5 linked regions of the Homo sapiens genome follow. The protein of the gene in region 1 interacts with the protein of each later gene in a biochemical or structural test. Each region holds a gene or a part of one and is shown in the gene's direction. Other genes may lie near its edges. The genes, in order: PTPRS, LRFN1, LRFN2, LRFN3 and LRFN5.

Region 1 (3,517 bases):
CACTGATATGTTGAAGGACCTGCCCAAGAGGGGCTCTCCAGTGTCCACCCGCGCCCCGCTACCCCGCCCTCAGCCCCCCGATGGGGTCCAGCACCAGGGAGATGTCAGGATGACTCAGCCACTGCAAACTGGGGCGTTCCCCTTCACTGGCTGCTTAATCAAGGCCGCCCCACTTCTGCGGCAGGACTGGGCGACTGGCGGGAGCTGAACCACAGGGGGCCTGGATGGTGGACAGGGAGGACACGTGGCTGCCTTGGGAGCTCCAGGCACTCCAGGGACTCCACATGTGGCTCCCAACTTCCAGAGCCCCTGGTGGGCCCGAGTGATCACCAAAGGGGGGAGTTTGGGGGGGATTTGGGGGTTTAACAGCAGTCATTTGATGGGCACTCAGGAAAGTGATCGGTTGACAAGCATGGTGTGCGAGCGAGCATGCATGCATTCATTCGAATATTCACCAGTTCATTAATTCATTCATTCCATCAGGATTGCTGGAAACCTGCTGCTAAGGAACTTGGAAGCCAGAATCTAAGCAGCTGTGGGGCTTGGGCTAGTAATAAAGCTGTTCTGTGCCTCAGTTTCCTGATCTGTAAAATGGGTGCTTTGACATTGCCTCTATCATAAGTGGAGACAGATGAACTGGTGTGGGGGGCACCAAGGACAGAGACTGAGAGTGGCACCTGCTGCTTTGTGGCTGGAGGTGAGGGGGGCGGAAACAAGAAGAGAAGAGTTGACTTTAGCTGGGGAAGACCACACAGGACCCCCCACCCCAAGGAGTTCGAATCGCATTGTGTGTGTGTGTGTGTGTGTGTGACAGGACTCACACTGTTGCTCAGGCTGGAGTGCAGTGATGCCATAATGGCTCACTGCAGTGTCTTAACTCCTGGGCTCAAGCAATCCTCCCACCTCAGCCTCCCAAGTAGCTGGGGACTATAGGCATCCACCAGCACGCCCAGCTGACTTTTGTATTATTATTATTATTATTATTATTATTTATTTATTTTTTTTTTGTAGAGATGGGTTTCACCATATTGCTCAGGCTGGTCTCAAACTCCTGGGTTCAAGCTATCTGCCTGCCTTGGCCTCGGAAAATGCTGGGATTCCAGGTGTGAGCCACCACACCTGGCGAATTGGCATTTTTTATTTATTTTTTATTTTATTTTATTTATTTGAGACAGTCTTGCTCTGTCGCCAGGCTGGAGTGCAACGGCGTGATCTCAGCTCACTGCAATCTCCGCCTCCCGGGTTCAAGTGGTTCTCCTGCCTCAGCCTCCCGAGTAGCTGGGATTACAGGCACCCGCCACCACATCTGGCTAATTTCTGTATTTTTGGTAGAGATGGGGTTTTACCCCATTGGCCAGGCTGGTCTCAAACTCCTGACATCAAGTGATCCGCCTGCCTTGGCCTCCCAAAGTGCCGGGATTACAGGCGTGAGCCACCGCGTCTAACAAATTGCATTTTTTAGATGTGCGGTCAGAGTTCTCTGAAAGCCCCCAGAGCTGGGCTGCCAACATCAGGATCAACAGAAAACCTGGAATGTTGGGAATGCTTCTTGGAACATCTGTCAGGCCAAGGCCCAGAGAGGGAGAGCAACTTGCCCAAGACCACACAGCCATGCCTGCCTGCCTGCTGCTGGGCCTTGCGCAGGAGGATGGACAGGGACCCCTTTCACCAGTCCAAAGGGAGAAACCGAGGCAGGAAGCCATGGCGGGTGTGTGATTCTCAAGCCATAACGCCTGTCAGGGCTGGAGTCTCCACTCCAGCGGGTCGTATGGGCCAAAAAGGCTTCTTCAACCTCCAAGGAAGCCCTGAATGGCTCCAGGGCCAGATCTGTTGGTTTTTCCAAGGAAAAGCAGAAATCTAGATTTTAAGTAAAATTGCCCAATTTTGGCTGGGCATGATGGCTCACGCCTGTAATCCCAGCACTTTGGGAGACCAAGGCAGGCAGATCACCTAAGGTCAGAAGTTTGAGACCAGCCTGGCCAACATGGTGAAACCCCGCCTCTACTAAAAATACAAAAATAATCTGGGCATGGTGGTGCATACCTGTAATCGCAGCTACTTGGGAGGCTGAGACAGGAGAATCGCTTGAACCTGGGAGGCGGAGGTTGCAGTGAGCTGAGATCATGCCACTTGCACTCCAGCCTGGGCGATAGAGTGAGACTCTGTCTAAAAAAAAAAAAAAATTGCCCTATTTTAACATCCTTGGGTTGAAACATCTTAACATGGCACAGTACAGAAATCCAGGGCCACCGTGGACTTTGACCCCTTCCCCAACAATTAAAAGTTGCGTGACTTCTGACACCTCCATTGCCGTCCGCGGGCCTCAGTTTCCAGGCCTGTGAAATGGGTTTAAGACTCCCAGCCACCTCTGCGGTTCTTTAGAGGCACCAGTGTGATAGCTTACAGAGAGTGCTGAGAACAGGGCCTGGGCCAGCGTCCGCGCTCGATAAACGTTGGCTCTGATTATATTAATATTGGTCATAATGATAAACTTGACTTAAATTAAATACTGCGTAGAAGGAAGCCGGCTGTCCCGCGGGGCAGGGCTGCGAATTATCTACTGGCGGCAGGACCTGCTTCTCCATCCCTCGTTCTTTCTGTAGCGCAGTCGTTTGCTCTTGGGGCTGGAGCACCCGGGTTACCAGTATTACTCGTTGAGTGTACTGCTGTGGTTCTCAGCCGGGGTCACTTTTGCTCCCCTGGGCACACTTGGCAACGTCTGGGGACATTTTTGGGTGTCATGTCCAGGGGGGTGCTGCTGGTATGGAGTAGGTGGAAGCCAGAGATGCTGCTCAACTCTGTGTAATGGCCAGGATGACCCCATCCCAGATAATGACCCCACCCTCATGTACACTGTGCTGAGGTTTAGAAACCCTGATTTTGCCAGGCATGGTGGCTCACGTCCATAATCCCAACACTTTGGGAGGTTAAAGCGGGAGGATTGCTTGAGCCTAGGAGTTCAAGATCAGACTGGGCAACACAGTGAGACCTCATCTCTACAAAAAACAAAAAAAAATCAGCCGAGGGTTGGGGTGCACACGTACGGTCCCAGCTACTGGGGAGGCTGAGGTGGGAGGATTGCTTGAGCCTAAGAGTTTGAGGCTGCAGTGAGCTATGATTGCATCACTCCACTCCAGCCTGGGCAACAGAGCAAGGCCTTCTCTTTTTTTTTTTTTTTTTTTTTTAAAAAAAGAAGCCCTGACTTATGCTGAAGACCCAAGACAGCGAGAGAAATCAGGCAGATGGTGCCTTTGTCCCTGAGCGTCCACCCAACACGCTCCCTGACGTCTCGCGGGGCCAGAACGCTTAGATTGCTAATGGGTTCCCTCTGCACATCTGTCCTGGTTCCACTGCCCCATTGATTATTGGAAGTGGGTAATTGCCCCTGTCGGATGAATTCTAGAGAGTGTGAACTGCCGGGGTTTCCGGCAACAGTGCTGGCTTCAACTCCCAGATATCAGCAGGGTGCAGAGAGGCTGCCAGGTCCCAGGACTTTTTCTCTTGGCCCCATCTGGCC
Region 2 (3,517 bases), about 34 Mb from region 1:
GAAAGCTGGAGAAAATAATAAATTAGTAATAATAATAGTAATAATAATAATGATAATAGCAGCAGCTCACATGTATATAGTGTTTACTTTGTCAGGAACTATTCTAAGCATGTCATAAAATATTATCTCATTAAATCCTCATAGCAACCTTATGAGGTGGGTGCCATTATTATTCCCATTTGACAGATGAGCACACCGAGGCACAGAAAGGGGAAGTCACTTGATTAAAGTCACACAGTGGGGAGGTGAGGTCTGAACCCAGGCAGTAGGGCGGATTCTGTCCTGCAGTGCTGCACCACTCTCCATAAATGTTAGCTATTTCCATTGCTATTATTATTCCCTCCATTTGAGTCCTACCCCAGCTGTCGGAGGCGAGGCTCTGGACTTCTGTTTCATAGACTGGGATTCTGAGCCCTGAAGACCCCACAGCCAAGCAGGGGCAGACTCAGGCTCCTAATTCTGGAGTCCCCCTTTCTAGGCCAGGGTTTCCAGTACATTGTAGAGTAGTGATCTAGAGGGAGTGAAGGACAGATTTGGGGTGAACTCAGAGATGGTAGGACACCCCGATCCGGCCTCTTTTTCCGCCTTCAGCCCGGTCATTGTCTCTCTTACTCTCTGTCTCTTTCCTCCTCTGTCTTTTTCTCTCTAATACTGTCTCTATTTTTCTCTCCATCTCTGTGTCTTTTTTCTGTGTCTCTCTCTTTTCTGTGTCTCATTCTTCACTCTCAGTTTTCTGTCTGTTCACCTTCCTTTCAGACTCATCTTTTTGTCTCTCTGTTTCTCTCCCAATCTGTCTCTCTCTCTTTGCCAGTCCACTTCTCCCTCCCCCTGGTCTCTCCTTGTCTCTCTTCACCTCTGTCTCTGACTTTCCTGGTCTCTGTCCCAGGCCCCCTCCCCACTGGCAGGAAGATCAAAGCCACCTAAGGCCGTAGCCCCAAACACAGATTCCTGGGAGGTAGGCCAGCAGGGGCTAGGGTACAGGGCAGGGTGGGGTGAAAACAGTTTTAGGGACGCCCCCTTCCCATCCTTTCCTCTTCACCCCCCGCCCACCCTGTGTTGTGATGGGAACTGACATGTCGTGGGCTGCAGCCGCCGCAGGGGGAATCCCTGCCGGAAGGTTTTGCCTGGAGCAGAGACATAGCGTGAGTGTGTGAGTGTGTGAGTGTGTGTGTGTGTGTTGTGTGTACCCAAAGATGTGAGCATGAAAGTCTGCCTTGCTTGGGAGCTCAACTGAGCCCAGGATGAAACCAGACCTCAGAGAAGGCCTTCCTGAGGCTGAACTGGAAGACTCTGATGTGTTTTCCTCAGTCCCTCCCACTTTGACACTCTCCCTGCCAATGCCAGAGGCGGGAGGGGGGAAACCCTTAACATTTATTGAGTACTTACTGTATGCCAGGCATGGTCGGTGGTACATGAATGAAGATGGTACAATTATCATCCCAATTTACAGATTAAGAAATTACAGCCTAGCTAGGGGAAATCATTGGCTTGGGGGTCACAGAGCTAGCAAAAGGGGAATCAGGATTTGAACCTGAGTCTGTTTGATTTCAAAGTACTTACTCTCAATAATAGGGCACTGTTCTATGCCTGGTACATATTAAGCACTTGATGATCATGATGATGATTGCTAACATGTAATAAGCACATTTTATATGCCTGGCACTATTCTAAGTATGCTATGTTCATCAATACATTTAATCCTCACAGAAGTAAGGCCTGTTTCTATCTCCCTTTTACAGATGAAGAAACCGAGAATCAGAGAGGTTCAGATACTTGCTGGAGGTCACACAGCTAGTAAGTATCAGAGCTGGGATTTGGAGCTAGGGAGTATGGCTTGGATAGCCAGGGCCTTAAACCATAGTTAACAGTGATTTTTTAGACAATTTAGTGGGTACTGGAGGGCCCAGGTTGGGCCAGGTGTCACCCCTCTGGTTGGGAGATCATGAGAGGTTTGGGAGCTACTACAGGAGGGGCAGAGGTGAGGGTGGGACACGCAAGTAGGGACAGGGGTATTCTATCAACCAGTATAGAGATATTTTTATTTTTATTTATGTTTTAAGATGGAGTCTTGCTCTGTCGCCCAGACTGGATTGCAATGGTGTGATCTCGGCTCACTGCAACCTCCACCTCCCTGGTTCAAGCGATTCTCGTGCTTCAGCCTCCCAAGTAGCTGGGATTACAGGCGCCCACCACCATGCCCAGCTAATTTTTGTATTTTTAGTAGAGACGGGGTTTCACCATGTTGGCCAGGCTGGTCTTGAACTCCTGACCTCAGGTGATCCGCCTGCCTCGGCCTCCCAAAGTGCTGGGATTACAGGCGTGAGCCACTGTGCCCAGCATGGAAGTGTTGTAATCTGTTGTTAATAGCTGATAGTGGCTTCCTCTCACCATCCTATGGAACCCAGCTGTAGGCGGTAGGGGAGGGATCCAGGCCTGACTCGTAGCAGGACATCCCATGGCGGCCAAGTCCCACGCCTGGGTAACCGGCTCCTTCCCCGGCAGGTCTCACCTCCCACCCCTCCTGCCTTCCCACTGCACCATGGCTCCAGGACCCTTCTCCTCGGCCCTCCTCTCGCCGCCGCCCGCTGCCCTGCCCTTTCTGCTGCTGCTCTGGGCGGGGGCATCTCGTGGCCAGCCCTGCCCCGGCCGCTGCATCTGCCAGAACGTGGCGCCCACACTGACAATGCTGTGCGCCAAGACCGGCTTGCTCTTTGTGCCGCCCGCCATCGACCGGCGCGTGGTGGAGCTGCGGCTCACCGACAACTTCATCGCCGCCGTGCGCCGCCGAGACTTCGCCAACATGACCAGCCTGGTGCACCTCACTCTCTCCCGGAACACCATCGGCCAGGTGGCAGCTGGCGCCTTCGCCGACCTGCGTGCCCTCCGGGCCCTGCACCTGGACAGCAACCGCCTGGCGGAGGTGCGCGGCGACCAGCTCCGCGGCCTGGGCAACCTCCGCCACCTGATCCTTGGAAACAACCAGATCCGCCGGGTGGAGTCGGCGGCCTTTGACGCCTTCCTGTCCACCGTGGAGGACCTGGATCTGTCCTACAACAACCTGGAGGCCCTGCCGTGGGAGGCGGTGGGCCAGATGGTGAACCTAAACACCCTCACGCTGGACCACAACCTCATCGACCACATCGCGGAGGGGACCTTCGTGCAGCTTCACAAGCTGGTCCGTCTGGACATGACCTCCAACCGCCTGCATAAACTCCCGCCCGACGGGCTCTTCCTGAGGTCGCAGGGCACCGGGCCCAAGCCGCCCACCCCGCTGACCGTCAGCTTCGGCGGCAACCCCCTGCACTGCAACTGCGAGCTGCTCTGGCTGCGGCGGCTGACCCGCGAGGACGACTTAGAGACCTGCGCCACGCCCGAACACCTCACCGACCGCTACTTCTGGTCCATCCCCGAGGAGGAGTTCCTGTGTGAGCCCCCGCTGATCACACGGCAGGCGGGGGGCCGGGCCCTGGTGGTGGAAGGCCAGGCGGTGAGCCTGCGCTGCCGAGCGGTGGGTGAC
Region 3 (3,517 bases), on another chromosome or scaffold:
ATGTGAGGGTCCAGATAGAGGCTAATTGCTTATGAAGGGTTCAGAATTCACTCCTTTGCCTCCCATCACACCTCCTTCTTCACTTCCCACATTCTCAAAGATTCATAAACTATGTGGATTCTCCTTGGTGAAACAGTTCCCCACTGACCTTGGAGTCTCTCAGCACCAACTCTCTTCTTATCTACAACCTCATTCTTAAGGAATGCTGGTTCAATTTAATTTCATGCTAAGCCTAAACCAATTAAGAATGTAAAATTATGCCTCAAAAAACAGCCATAATATCCTTTCAAACTCAATTATTGGATAAGCCAATGATATGGTATCGCATTCATCCATCCATCCATCCATCCATCCACCCATCCATCCATCCATCCATCCAACAGATAGTTATTGAGCAGCTACTGTGTTCCAGGCATTGAGCTAGGTAATTGGGATACAGCAATTAGTAAAACAGGCAAAAGTACCTGCCCTCTTTGGAGCTGACCATAGAGGACTGAAACAGGAAACAATAAATAAACATCATAAATAAGTAAACTAAATAGTGTGTTAGAAGGTGATAAAGCTAAGGAAAAGAGAAACAGTAAAACTGCATTAGAGGGATTCATGGAAGAGATTAGGTCTTGCTTGAGCACTTGCCATTCTATGCCACTCCCTAAGGCAGTGAGGGTTAATGTGAGGGAGGAAGCTCTGGGTGAGTGCATTAGGAATTTGCCTCCTGACCCTGAGCTTGTGTTTCTCCCTTCCAGGCGCTGAGTGACCAGACCATGGAGACCCTGCTTGGTGGCCTGCTAGCGTTTGGCATGGCGTTTGCCGTGGTCGACGCCTGCCCCAAGTACTGTGTCTGCCAGAATCTGTCTGAGTCACTGGGGACCCTGTGCCCCTCCAAGGGGCTGCTCTTTGTACCCCCTGATATTGACCGGCGGACAGTGGAGCTGCGCCTGGGCGGCAACTTCATCATCCACATCAGCCGCCAGGACTTTGCCAACATGACGGGGCTGGTGGACCTGACCCTGTCCAGGAACACCATCAGCCACATCCAGCCCTTTTCCTTTCTGGACCTCGAGAGCCTCCGCTCCCTGCATCTTGACAGCAATCGGCTGCCAAGCCTTGGGGAGGACACCCTCCGGGGCCTGGTCAACCTGCAGCACCTTATCGTGAACAACAACCAGCTGGGCGGCATCGCAGATGAGGCTTTTGAGGACTTCCTGCTGACATTGGAGGATCTGGACCTCTCCTACAACAACCTCCATGGCCTGCCGTGGGACTCCGTGCGACGCATGGTCAACCTCCACCAGCTGAGCCTGGACCACAACCTGCTGGATCACATCGCCGAGGGCACCTTTGCAGACCTGCAGAAACTGGCCCGCCTGGATCTCACCTCCAATCGGCTGCAGAAGCTGCCCCCTGATCCCATCTTTGCCCGCTCCCAGGCTTCGGCTTTGACAGCCACACCCTTTGCCCCACCCTTGTCCTTTAGTTTTGGGGGTAACCCACTTCACTGCAATTGTGAGCTTCTCTGGCTGCGGAGGCTCGAGCGGGACGATGACCTGGAAACCTGTGGCTCCCCAGGGGGCCTCAAGGGTCGCTACTTCTGGCATGTGCGTGAGGAGGAGTTTGTGTGCGAGCCGCCTCTCATCACCCAGCACACACACAAGTTGCTGGTTCTGGAGGGCCAGGCGGCCACACTCAAGTGCAAAGCCATTGGGGACCCCAGCCCCCTTATCCACTGGGTAGCCCCCGATGACCGCCTGGTAGGGAACTCCTCAAGGACCGCTGTCTATGACAATGGCACCCTGGACATCTTCATCACCACATCTCAGGACAGTGGTGCCTTCACCTGCATTGCTGCCAATGCTGCCGGAGAGGCCACGGCCATGGTGGAGGTCTCCATCGTCCAGCTGCCACACCTCAGCAACAGCACCAGCCGCACTGCACCCCCCAAGTCCCGCCTCTCAGACATCACTGGCTCCAGCAAGACCAGCCGGGGAGGTGGAGGCAGTGGGGGCGGAGAGCCTCCCAAAAGCCCCCCGGAACGGGCTGTGCTTGTGTCTGAAGTGACCACCACCTCGGCCCTGGTCAAGTGGTCTGTCAGCAAGTCAGCACCCCGGGTGAAGATGTACCAGCTGCAGTACAACTGCTCTGACGATGAGGTACTGATTTACAGGTGAGCAAGCGGCTGTGGCAAAGGCAGGGAGGGTGTCTGGCTGGGGAAGGAGGAGGGGATGGGGAGGTCTTGGGGCTGCTCCCACCTATACCCCTCTTCCCCAAAGGTGTCTGTGGGGATTCTGGGGCAAACTGTGCCATTCGTGCAGGTAAGAGGAGATAAAAAGAACATCAACTACAAGGCTAAGAAGAAAAGAATCCACACGGGCAGCCTGAGAGATATGTGTAAAGAAAGACCACACCTCCCGGCTGGGTGGCTGTGGTCAGTGGTCTTATGGCTATGAGCTTATGAATGTTCTGTTCTAAGCCCAGTTGGAGGATATACAAGGACAATGAATAGACCTCTTGGCTGAAGGTTCTGACTCCCCAAAAGAGGCATGCATTTGACCTTCACCTGGACTCATATGCAGTCATGGTTAAGGCTCTGAGGTCAGAAAGAGTGAGATTCAAATCATGGCTTTTCCACTTGCTAGTCATTTCATTCTCCTGGCCTCCCTCAGTTTTCTCATCTGTAAGATAAGGATAATTAATACCTGACTTAGTTTGGACACTCACTAAATGCACTTATTCAGTTTTGGTAACTGAATCAAACTGGCTTTTAAAAAAAAAAGAGAGAGAGAAAGGGAGGGAGAGTGTGTTGACTCATGTCATTAACAAGTCAGGAACCTGCTTCAGGTTCAGCTGGATCAAAGGTCCCCTACAAATCTGTATTCTCAGTTTCTTACCTTCCCTAAGTTCTATTTTTCTCTGGGTTGGCTTCACCGTCAGGGAGTCTCTTTCCCCTGGGAGACCTCTGCTGGGTCCTCTAAGCAGCCCTAGAGCCTACTTAGAGCCCTAGAGGGAGAAGAGCTTCCCTTTCCCAATTGAGCGCTGACTGAGTCAGACCACATCATGTGAGCCCCCTGGGTCTTACAGGTAGCATCAGCCCTCTCACCTGTGCTGAACCCCCTGGGCCTTAGTCTCTGCATCTAGAAGTGAAGACAATGGTACTGACCTTGAAAAGTTCTCTGAAAATCAAGGGGTCATTTCCTAGGTCTGGTAGAAAGGGAGGTTAAATGTGGAAAGCTGCAATAGAATCACATAAGTCATTCAGAGGAAAGAAGGTCACAGAGTGACAGAAGGCCAGGGGCCAAAATGCTGACCACAGATGAGTTCCCTTATATGAAACATGAAGGACATGGCCTAAAACCTTACCGCTCAAGGAATGTATGGTGTCCTTTGAAATTCTGTGTGTTTTATTTTATGCATGTAAAATGATTGTTTGGAGATGGGATCCCATGAGTTTCATCACACAGCCAAAGGGCCCATGGTGCAAGAGAGATCAAAAATACTTGATCCATCCTGGAGGTCTCCT
Region 4 (4,069 bases), about 31 Mb from region 1:
TGACAAAGCAAGACCCTGTCTCAAAAAAAAAAGTATGGTCTTTGAAAAGTCACATTAGCATCACCTGGGTACTCGTTAAAAATGCAAATGTTTGGGTCCCACCTCAGACCCACTGAACCAGAAACTCTGAGGTTGGGACCTGGAGATCTATGGTGCCCCCGGGTGATCCTGGTGGGCTGCACTGCAAGGACACCTGGCCTGGCTCCTGCAAGGCAAGGCATCCCTCTCTGCTTTTCTTTCTTTCTTTCTTTCTTTTAAAGACAGAGTCTCACTCTGTCACCCAGGCTGGAGTGCAATGGCTGGATCTCAGATCACTACAATCTCCACCTCCCGGGTTCAAGCAATTCTCTTGCCTCAGCCTCCCGAGTAGCTGGGATTACGGGCGTCCGCCACCACACCCGGCTAATTTTTGTATTTTTAGTAGAGACGGGGTTTCTCCATGTTGGCCAGGCTGGTCTCCAACGCCTGATCTCAAAAGATCCGCCCGCCTTGGCCTCCCAACGAGCCGGGATTACAGGCGTGAGCCACCGCCCCCGGCTGTCAGTGTGTCTTGAGGTCTTTCCCTAATCCCAGATGGCACAAGTTTTCCCTCTTGCAGGCAGAGAAAGGAGCCTTGGGAAGGAGCCCCTCTGGCCTGAAAGATCAAGCCTATTGCTGGGCATGGCCAGGTAAGGAAACTCCAACCGTGGAAAGGACATTCCAGGGAGGTGGTGCTGAGATAAGGGGGGCAGAAAGAGACAGGTTTGGGGGGCCAGTGGCTCTGGAATGAAGCGCTACACTCAAGGCTAGGAATAGTTACTGAATGCACATACACACATACCATTCTCACAGCCCAGGTGCTGCGTCTTAGAGCGTGTGAGTGTGTATGTGTGTGTCTGTGTGTGCGCGCGCACGCACGTCTCTATCTCTGTTTCTGTCTTTCTCTGACTTGTCCTTATCTCTTGTCTCTCCATCACTCTCTGTGTCTCGCTGTCTCTGTGCATTTCCATGTCTCGAATATGTGTGTGTTTCAATCTGTCTCTCTGCCTCTTTCCATTTTCTCCTCTCTATCCATCAATCTAAGCCTGCCCATCTTTTTGTCTGCCTTTCTGTATCTCCGTTCTTCTCTGTCTCTCTGTCTCAGTCTCTCTGTATCCAGGGATTCTCTTTCCCAGCAGCGCCAGTGCGACTCCATGGGAGGTGGGGCCGGGGCGCGTCTTTGAGAGAAGGGGCGGGTGCCTACGCCTTTAAGCGCGGGTGCGCGCGGAGCCTGCGCCTTTAAGCGCCGGTGCGCGCGCTGCCCTGGGTTGCCGGCGAGGAGGCCGCGGGAGCGCCTGGACCCGGCCCGCCCAGCCCGGCCCCCGCCCGGCCCCCGCCTCGGCCCCGGCGGGGGAGGGGTCTCTGAGCGCGGCCCCTCCCCCCTGCGCCCCCGCCTGCGCTGCGGTGCCCCCATCCCGCGTGTCCCAGTCTGTCTGACCGTCCCTCCGCTCCCAGGCCTCGCCCCACCCGGCCCTGGGGCTGCCCGGTCGCCCCCCTCCCCACCGCAGCCGGTCCCCTCCCTCCCAGTCAGCCTCCGCCGCAGCCCAGGAAGCCAGCCGGGACGCCGCCGCCCCGGACCCCGCGCCCTAACCTCCACCTCGGGGGCCTGCACCCCCAGATTGAATCGGGAATTCCGGAAACCCGAGCCTGGAACCCTGATCTGGGACCAGCACCCCGAGATCCGGCCGTGGAACCCCAAGATCTGGAGCCTGAACCCCAGTATATGGGGCTGGAATCTCAACATCGGTCACTGGGACCTCAATATTTGGAGCCGGAACCCCACAATTTGGAACACAGACCCCAATATTTGGAGCAGAACCCCAAGATTTGACATCTAAAACCTCAAGCCTGGAGCTGAACTCTGAATTCTGGGCCTGGGACCTTGAAATCTGGGACTGGATTTCCAGTACTGTACCCTGGAACCCACTCTTGGGGACCTGAACCCTGGGATTCAGGCCTCAAATTCCAAGATCTGGACTGTGGGATTCCAAGGGGCCTGAACCCGAGTTTGGGCCTGAAGTCCTTGCTGCAGACCTGAGTGCTTAAATCTGGGGCTTGAGACCTCCCAATCTTGACTCAGCACCCCAATATCTGAATGCAGAACCCCGGGATCGGATCTCAGACTCTAAACCCCACCGTTTGGCTGCTTAGCATCCCAAGACTGGACCTGGGAGACCCTGACCCTGAACAACCCAAACTGGACCCGTAAAACTGGACCCTAGAGGCCCAATATTTAGGGGTCTGGAACCCCGAGTATTAAGGTCTGGAGACTCCGTTGCCACAGATTTGAGCCGAGTCAGGACACAGTCCCTCTACAGAAGCCTTGGGGACAGGAAAAGCATGACCAGATGCTCCCTCCAGAGCCCTGACCTCTGACTCCCCTGGAGCTAGGACTCTGCTCCCTGGGGCTGCTTCTAGCTCAGGTAAGGCTGCTGAAACCTCAAGGTGGGGACGGGCTGGGAGGAGCATTGTGGCTGCGGGTTACGGTACCAGGTACCCTTTGACACTCTTGGGGTTTCTCCAGAAAAAAAGACATTCCCCCATGGGTCTGCCTTCAGCTCCTGCTCTGCTCCAAACACTCTCTGGACACTGGCCATCCTTGCCCCTCTCTGACCTTCCCTGCCTCAGTTGATGGGACCTCCAGGTCTCTGACCCCTGCAACCCTTACAGCCTTTCGCTGTCTATCCGGTCCGACCGTCTCCGCCACCTCTCTTGTCCACCACTCCTCTCTCTGGGCTCCTTTCTCCACCTGTCCTCTCAATGGCCATCTCTGTTCCCTTTTTCTCTCTCTGATCATCTTTGTGACACCCCTGTCCACAGGTCCTCTCTCCAGTCGCCTCTGCCTGCTGCTTCTCAGTGACCATCGCTGACATCTGTGTCCACTGTGCCTCTCTCTAATCATCATTCACCAGCTCTCTTGCTCCTTCTCCACCCCTGAATCTAAGCCTAGGTCTGTGACCGTCCCCATCCATCTTTGACATTGCTGTCCACCACTCTTCTCTCCAGCAGCCTCTGTCCATCTCTCCTCTCTAGCTTCCTCTGGCCACCTTTCCCTTTCTCTGGCCATCTCTCCCACTGCTCTTGCCCTCCTCCCACCCCTGACCCTAACTCCCAGTCTGCAACTGTCTGACCATCTCTGGCCACCTCTCCTCTCTCTCTCACTCACTGATGCCCTCTGATCATCTCTGGCCACCTCTTCTCTCTCTCTCACTCATTGATGCCCTCTTGATCATCTCTGGCCACCTCTTCTCTCTTTCTCACTCACTGATGCCCTCTTGATCATCTCTGCCCACCTCTTTTCTCTCGCTCGCTGATGCCCTCTGATCATCTCTGGCCACCTCTTCTCTCTCTCTCACTCACTGATGCCCTCTGATAATCTCTGGCCACCTCTCCTCTCTCACTTGCTGATGCCCTCTGATCATCTCGAACATCTCTGCTGCCTTTCCTCTCTCCGATGACCTCTCCCCGCACCATCCTCCTGAGCAGCTGTCCTGGGCTCCCACTGACTCTGCCATGTCTGTCCTTTTCCTCCTCTCTGACCACCTTGCTGGCTTTGGGCCGTTTCTGACCACGTGTCTCTGACATGGTCATCTCCCCCAGATCTGAGCCCAACCCATGCCCTCCCTTCTCTTTGTCCACTGCTCATCTTCCTGACCATCTGTAACCCCTTCTCTTCTCTGGTCATATCTGACCACTTCTGATCATTGTTGCCACCCTGGCTGCCCCGTCTCCCCATGGCCAGCTTTTACCATCTCTGACCACGTCTAAAGCCCTCTGGTTTTCCTGCCACTCACCCAGACCAGCTGTCATTTCTCTGACCATTTCTTTACTTTTTTCTTTTGGAGAGACAGAGTCACGCTCTGTTGCCCAGGCTGGAGTGTGGTGGCGCAATCATAGCTCACTGCAGCCTCAAATTCTTGGGCTCAAATTGATCCTCCCACCTCAGTGTCCCATGTAGCTAGGACCACAGGTGGGCGCCACCATGCCTAGCTAATTTTTAAAAATTTTTGTATAATAGATACACGGTCTCACTTTGTTGCCCAGGCTGGTC
Region 5 (3,517 bases), on another chromosome or scaffold:
TATTATTATAAATGGAATTTAGACTTTCTTTGGAAGTCTTTGTACTAAGAGATATAGCACAAAATTTTGCAAATGTGATACATATATAAGGCTTTGAATAATAACTTTTTATCTTAAAGTAATTAGTATTACAAAAAATAAGAAAATATCATTAAAAATAAATGACTGTCATATATTATAGAAAACTTCCCTTCATACTTAAGCTACCTTGTTCCTCTTTCTATAAATATTAGCAAGTAAAACAAATCCAAAGACAAATAATAGTTTTAACAAAATTCAGTGGCCATACATCACTCACTTATTAGCCAGCTCCTTGCTACCTTTCTATTATCAGATTTAAGTTACTGTATGACCCCAAGGTAACTATTCTTGATTCTCGGTAAATGATTTGTGCTATAGCAGGCCTATGTCTACCACTGTGAGAAGACCAAACAGTGATGCCCCTACTGAAGACAGTGTGTGACCTGTGTGTTCTTAGCTTTGTCATAGCCTTTCACATTGTCAGTGTGTGAATGAACAGAGGTGGAGAGCGGGCAGAGACCCTTTGTGATTGCAACTCTTCAGCTCCGAGTTTTCCGTAGCCAGTCATACTGAGGTACCTGTTAAGGTGAATTTTTTTCTAAGCATAGAGAGTTAAAACACTTATTTCATTTCCATTATTCAGAATATGCCCCATGCCAATTTTCTTTTTTAGAAGCCTTTAGGAATGTATATAAAAGTTGAGTGGCCTTGAAATATTTTAATATCTAATATATAATACAATTCTTTTATAATATAATCATAAAATTTTAATCACACTAAAATGAATTGAGAGGAAAGGGGAAAGGAATTACGTATAAAATTAATGCTGATAACTCTACGTGGAAATTGACACTTACCTATAAATTTTCCTTGTGTTTGGCCAAGATTTTTATCTTTACAAGGAACACAGTAAAACAATAGTTATGCTGTTCGGCAGTTAAGTAAGAAATAGTTGAGTAGTTTCCATTTATACTGAAAATGCCTTAAATAAAATTTCTTAAGAACTGTTTGCTGTTTTCTGACCAATAAAATATGTATGCATTGTGTGTGTGTGTGTGTGTGTGTGTGTGTGTGTGTAGCTTTGCACAAGAGCTATAGCTTATTCTGTGATTGCTTGCACAGGCCTTTAAGATAATTGCTTCTTGATTTTAATAAATTTAACTTGCGATTAGTCCACATTTAATAACAAGCAAAAGTGTAAACTTTGCAATAAAATCTCTGTTACAGATGAGTACAATTTTTTAGATAATTAATATACAAATTAAAAGCTAATATTGATTATGAATACATAACAACACTGATAAAACTATGGGAAAACACAGGGTTAGGAAAATACATGAAATAAGAGCCAAAGAGAAAAGCAAATTTTATACACATGATGCAAATATGCTTCCAATTTGTTTCCAGGTGAGTGTGATCAATGTAAAATATTTGCTTCTGCAGGAGGAGGTTCCTATGATATTCTTTTCAAGTAAATTTTCTGAAATAAGAGTAATAGAATAAACACATATGTAGGAAACATTTGGCTGTTTTTATAATAATTAAAGCATGTTTTTAACATATATATTTGAACATTATAACAAATTTTAAAAAAGGAGAGCCTTTGGGTCAGCAATGACCTTTAGAAATCATCTCCTTGCTTAGACATCCTAGCTATAAAAGATCAAAATATTTCACAGTTCTTAATTACATTGAGAATAGGGGCAGTAATAAATCTTTTCCCACAATTCATTTAATGTCAGGATTTTTTTTCTTCTCTTAATGTTCAGGGAGCTTGCATTTCTTATTTATCTTTTAGTACTGTTAATAAGACTGTCCACAGATTTTTGCATGATATCCACTCACTCTTAAATGAGGACAATAACCAAAACATCCTAAACCTACTACAACTTGATTATTTTTAGTTTTTGTAACATTTTTACCATATTTAGTCTGTATTATTTGTATTGTTTGATACTCTTGTAATTTTGTGTTTTATGTTTAGGTATTTATGGAATTACTATAGGAGCTATCTATTGATAAGTAAATTAAAAAGTGTCATTTTGGATATTCTATTAAATGCCAGTTTTTATTTGGCTTCATATTATTTAATAATTTTAATATTGCTACATCTTCAGAGCAGACAAACTTCTTAGTTCACAAAATTTTTATTTCCTACTGTTCAAATATAAACCATAATTTTACAGTTTGTTAATATGATTAGTTAATGTGAAACTCTAGTAAATCTTTAAGATATGTCAGCTTACAAAATCATTAACTTGATACTAAATTAAAGTTTGCTATCCTGGAACCATTTATTACTTAAAAACTTAAACTAGTTATTTTGTCCACTGTCATTTTCCTTCTAGGTGTACTGCAACTTTTACTTTTACTACTTTTTGTAACTTGACCTTTGATATAGTATCATAACACCTTTTTTGTGTCAAAGGGAGTATATCACTTGAAATATAAAAAGAGAAAACATGTTGATTTTCAATTTTACCAATATGAGCTCTGCAATGAACCAAATAAAGAAGAATTTAGTAATATATACCATTACATTTTTACAGTGATTTTGCAATGTTTTTCTTAGTATATTCCAGGTAAATTATGATAATAATATCTATATTTCAGTAGCTTTTTAAAAAGTAATTCTTTTTTTACAAATAAGATACACACTGGTCCCTTAACAGTCTTCACATATATGGTGTATTTCTTATTAGCTTTCCAAAATTATTATTTTTGCTAAAATCAATTTCACTATTCAGATTATCAATTATTTTGAAATGTTTTCTTAAATAAAATATCTTTACAGCATTTTACCTAACTTCACATAAAGTTACCAAAAATAACCTTTAATATACTTTAATAACTTTATCACATAAAATTATCTAAAGATATTCTACATCAACATTTTAATATAGAATACTAAATAAATGAATCTCTATTTCATGATTCATTCATGCCATGCATTTTATAATTCCCAAATAAAAAATTGTTAAGATGCAGTTGTTTTTTAATGGAAAAGAGAAAATTACTTGTACTCATGTATATGAAAGCATATATTTCTCAAAAAATTATTTTCCATTTTCATCAAGAATAGACTTCATTAGACATATCTTAAATCCATGAAGACTGAGAACACATATTAGAGGAAAAATATTTTCACAGTTTTATGTTTAAATATTTTTATAAAATGGCTTTTACATTATTTTCTTTCAAAATCATGTTTAATTCAAACATGGAATGCCTGTAAGAGTTATTGTAAGTTTTCCATTTATTTTGTTTTGTGGGTGAAAAACTGATTAGTTAAGGTGAATAATTTACTACCATTAAATGTATTATTAAATATTTGTAAAATTTTAATATCATACACATTTTCTAGCAGAATTTTTAAAATTTGTAAGTAGCATGCTTTAATAACTGCAATTATTATTTGTTTATCTTACCTTGAAATTATATATGTGAAAAACAAAGCAATAGAAAATGCCATTTTACAATGTAGCTTTGACTTTAC

Evidence for each region.
Region 2: the proteins of PTPRS (region 1) and LRFN1 interact in a biophysical measurement, tested with the Homo sapiens proteins (one large-scale study listed by IntAct).
Region 3: the proteins of PTPRS (region 1) and LRFN2 interact in a biophysical measurement, tested with the Homo sapiens proteins (one large-scale study listed by IntAct).
Region 4: the proteins of PTPRS (region 1) and LRFN3 interact in a biophysical measurement, tested with the Homo sapiens proteins (one large-scale study listed by IntAct).
Region 5: the proteins of PTPRS (region 1) and LRFN5 interact in a biophysical measurement, tested with the Homo sapiens proteins (one large-scale study listed by IntAct).

The regions. Positions count from the first base shown.
Region 1 is NC_000019.10:5,330,797-5,334,313, reverse strand, and holds part of PTPRS (receptor-type tyrosine-protein phosphatase S isoform 1 precursor), read left to right. Parts: intron 1-3,517. UniProt on the Homo sapiens protein: Cell surface receptor that binds to glycosaminoglycans, including chondroitin sulfate proteoglycans and heparan sulfate proteoglycan.
Region 2 is NC_000019.10:39,314,359-39,317,875, reverse strand, and holds part of LRFN1 (leucine-rich repeat and fibronectin type III domain-containing protein 1 precursor), read left to right. Parts: intron 1-1,739; 5' UTR 1,740-1,794; intron 1,795-2,502; 5' UTR 2,503-2,539; coding exon 2,540-3,517. UniProt on the Homo sapiens protein: Promotes neurite outgrowth in hippocampal neurons. Involved in the regulation and maintenance of excitatory synapses. Induces the clustering of excitatory postsynaptic proteins, including DLG4, DLGAP1, GRIA1 and GRIN1.
Region 3 is NC_000006.12:40,430,361-40,433,877, reverse strand, and holds part of LRFN2 (leucine-rich repeat and fibronectin type-III domain-containing protein 2 precursor), read left to right. Parts: intron 1-746; 5' UTR 747-764; coding exon 765-2,164; intron 2,165-3,517. UniProt on the Homo sapiens protein: Promotes neurite outgrowth in hippocampal neurons. Enhances the cell surface expression of 2 NMDA receptor subunits GRIN1 and GRIN2A. May play a role in redistributing DLG4 to the cell periphery.
Region 4 is NC_000019.10:35,935,115-35,939,183, forward strand, and holds the start of LRFN3 (leucine-rich repeat and fibronectin type-III domain-containing protein 3 precursor), read left to right. Parts: upstream 1-1,259; 5' UTR 1,260-2,441; intron 2,442-4,069. UniProt on the Homo sapiens protein: Cell adhesion molecule that mediates homophilic cell-cell adhesion in a Ca(2+)-independent manner. Promotes neurite outgrowth in hippocampal neurons.
Region 5 is NC_000014.9:41,900,370-41,903,886, forward strand, and holds part of LRFN5 (leucine-rich repeat and fibronectin type-III domain-containing protein 5 isoform 1 precursor), read left to right. Parts: intron 1-3,517. UniProt on the Homo sapiens protein: Cell adhesion molecule that mediates homophilic cell-cell adhesion in a Ca(2+)-independent manner. Promotes neurite outgrowth in hippocampal neurons.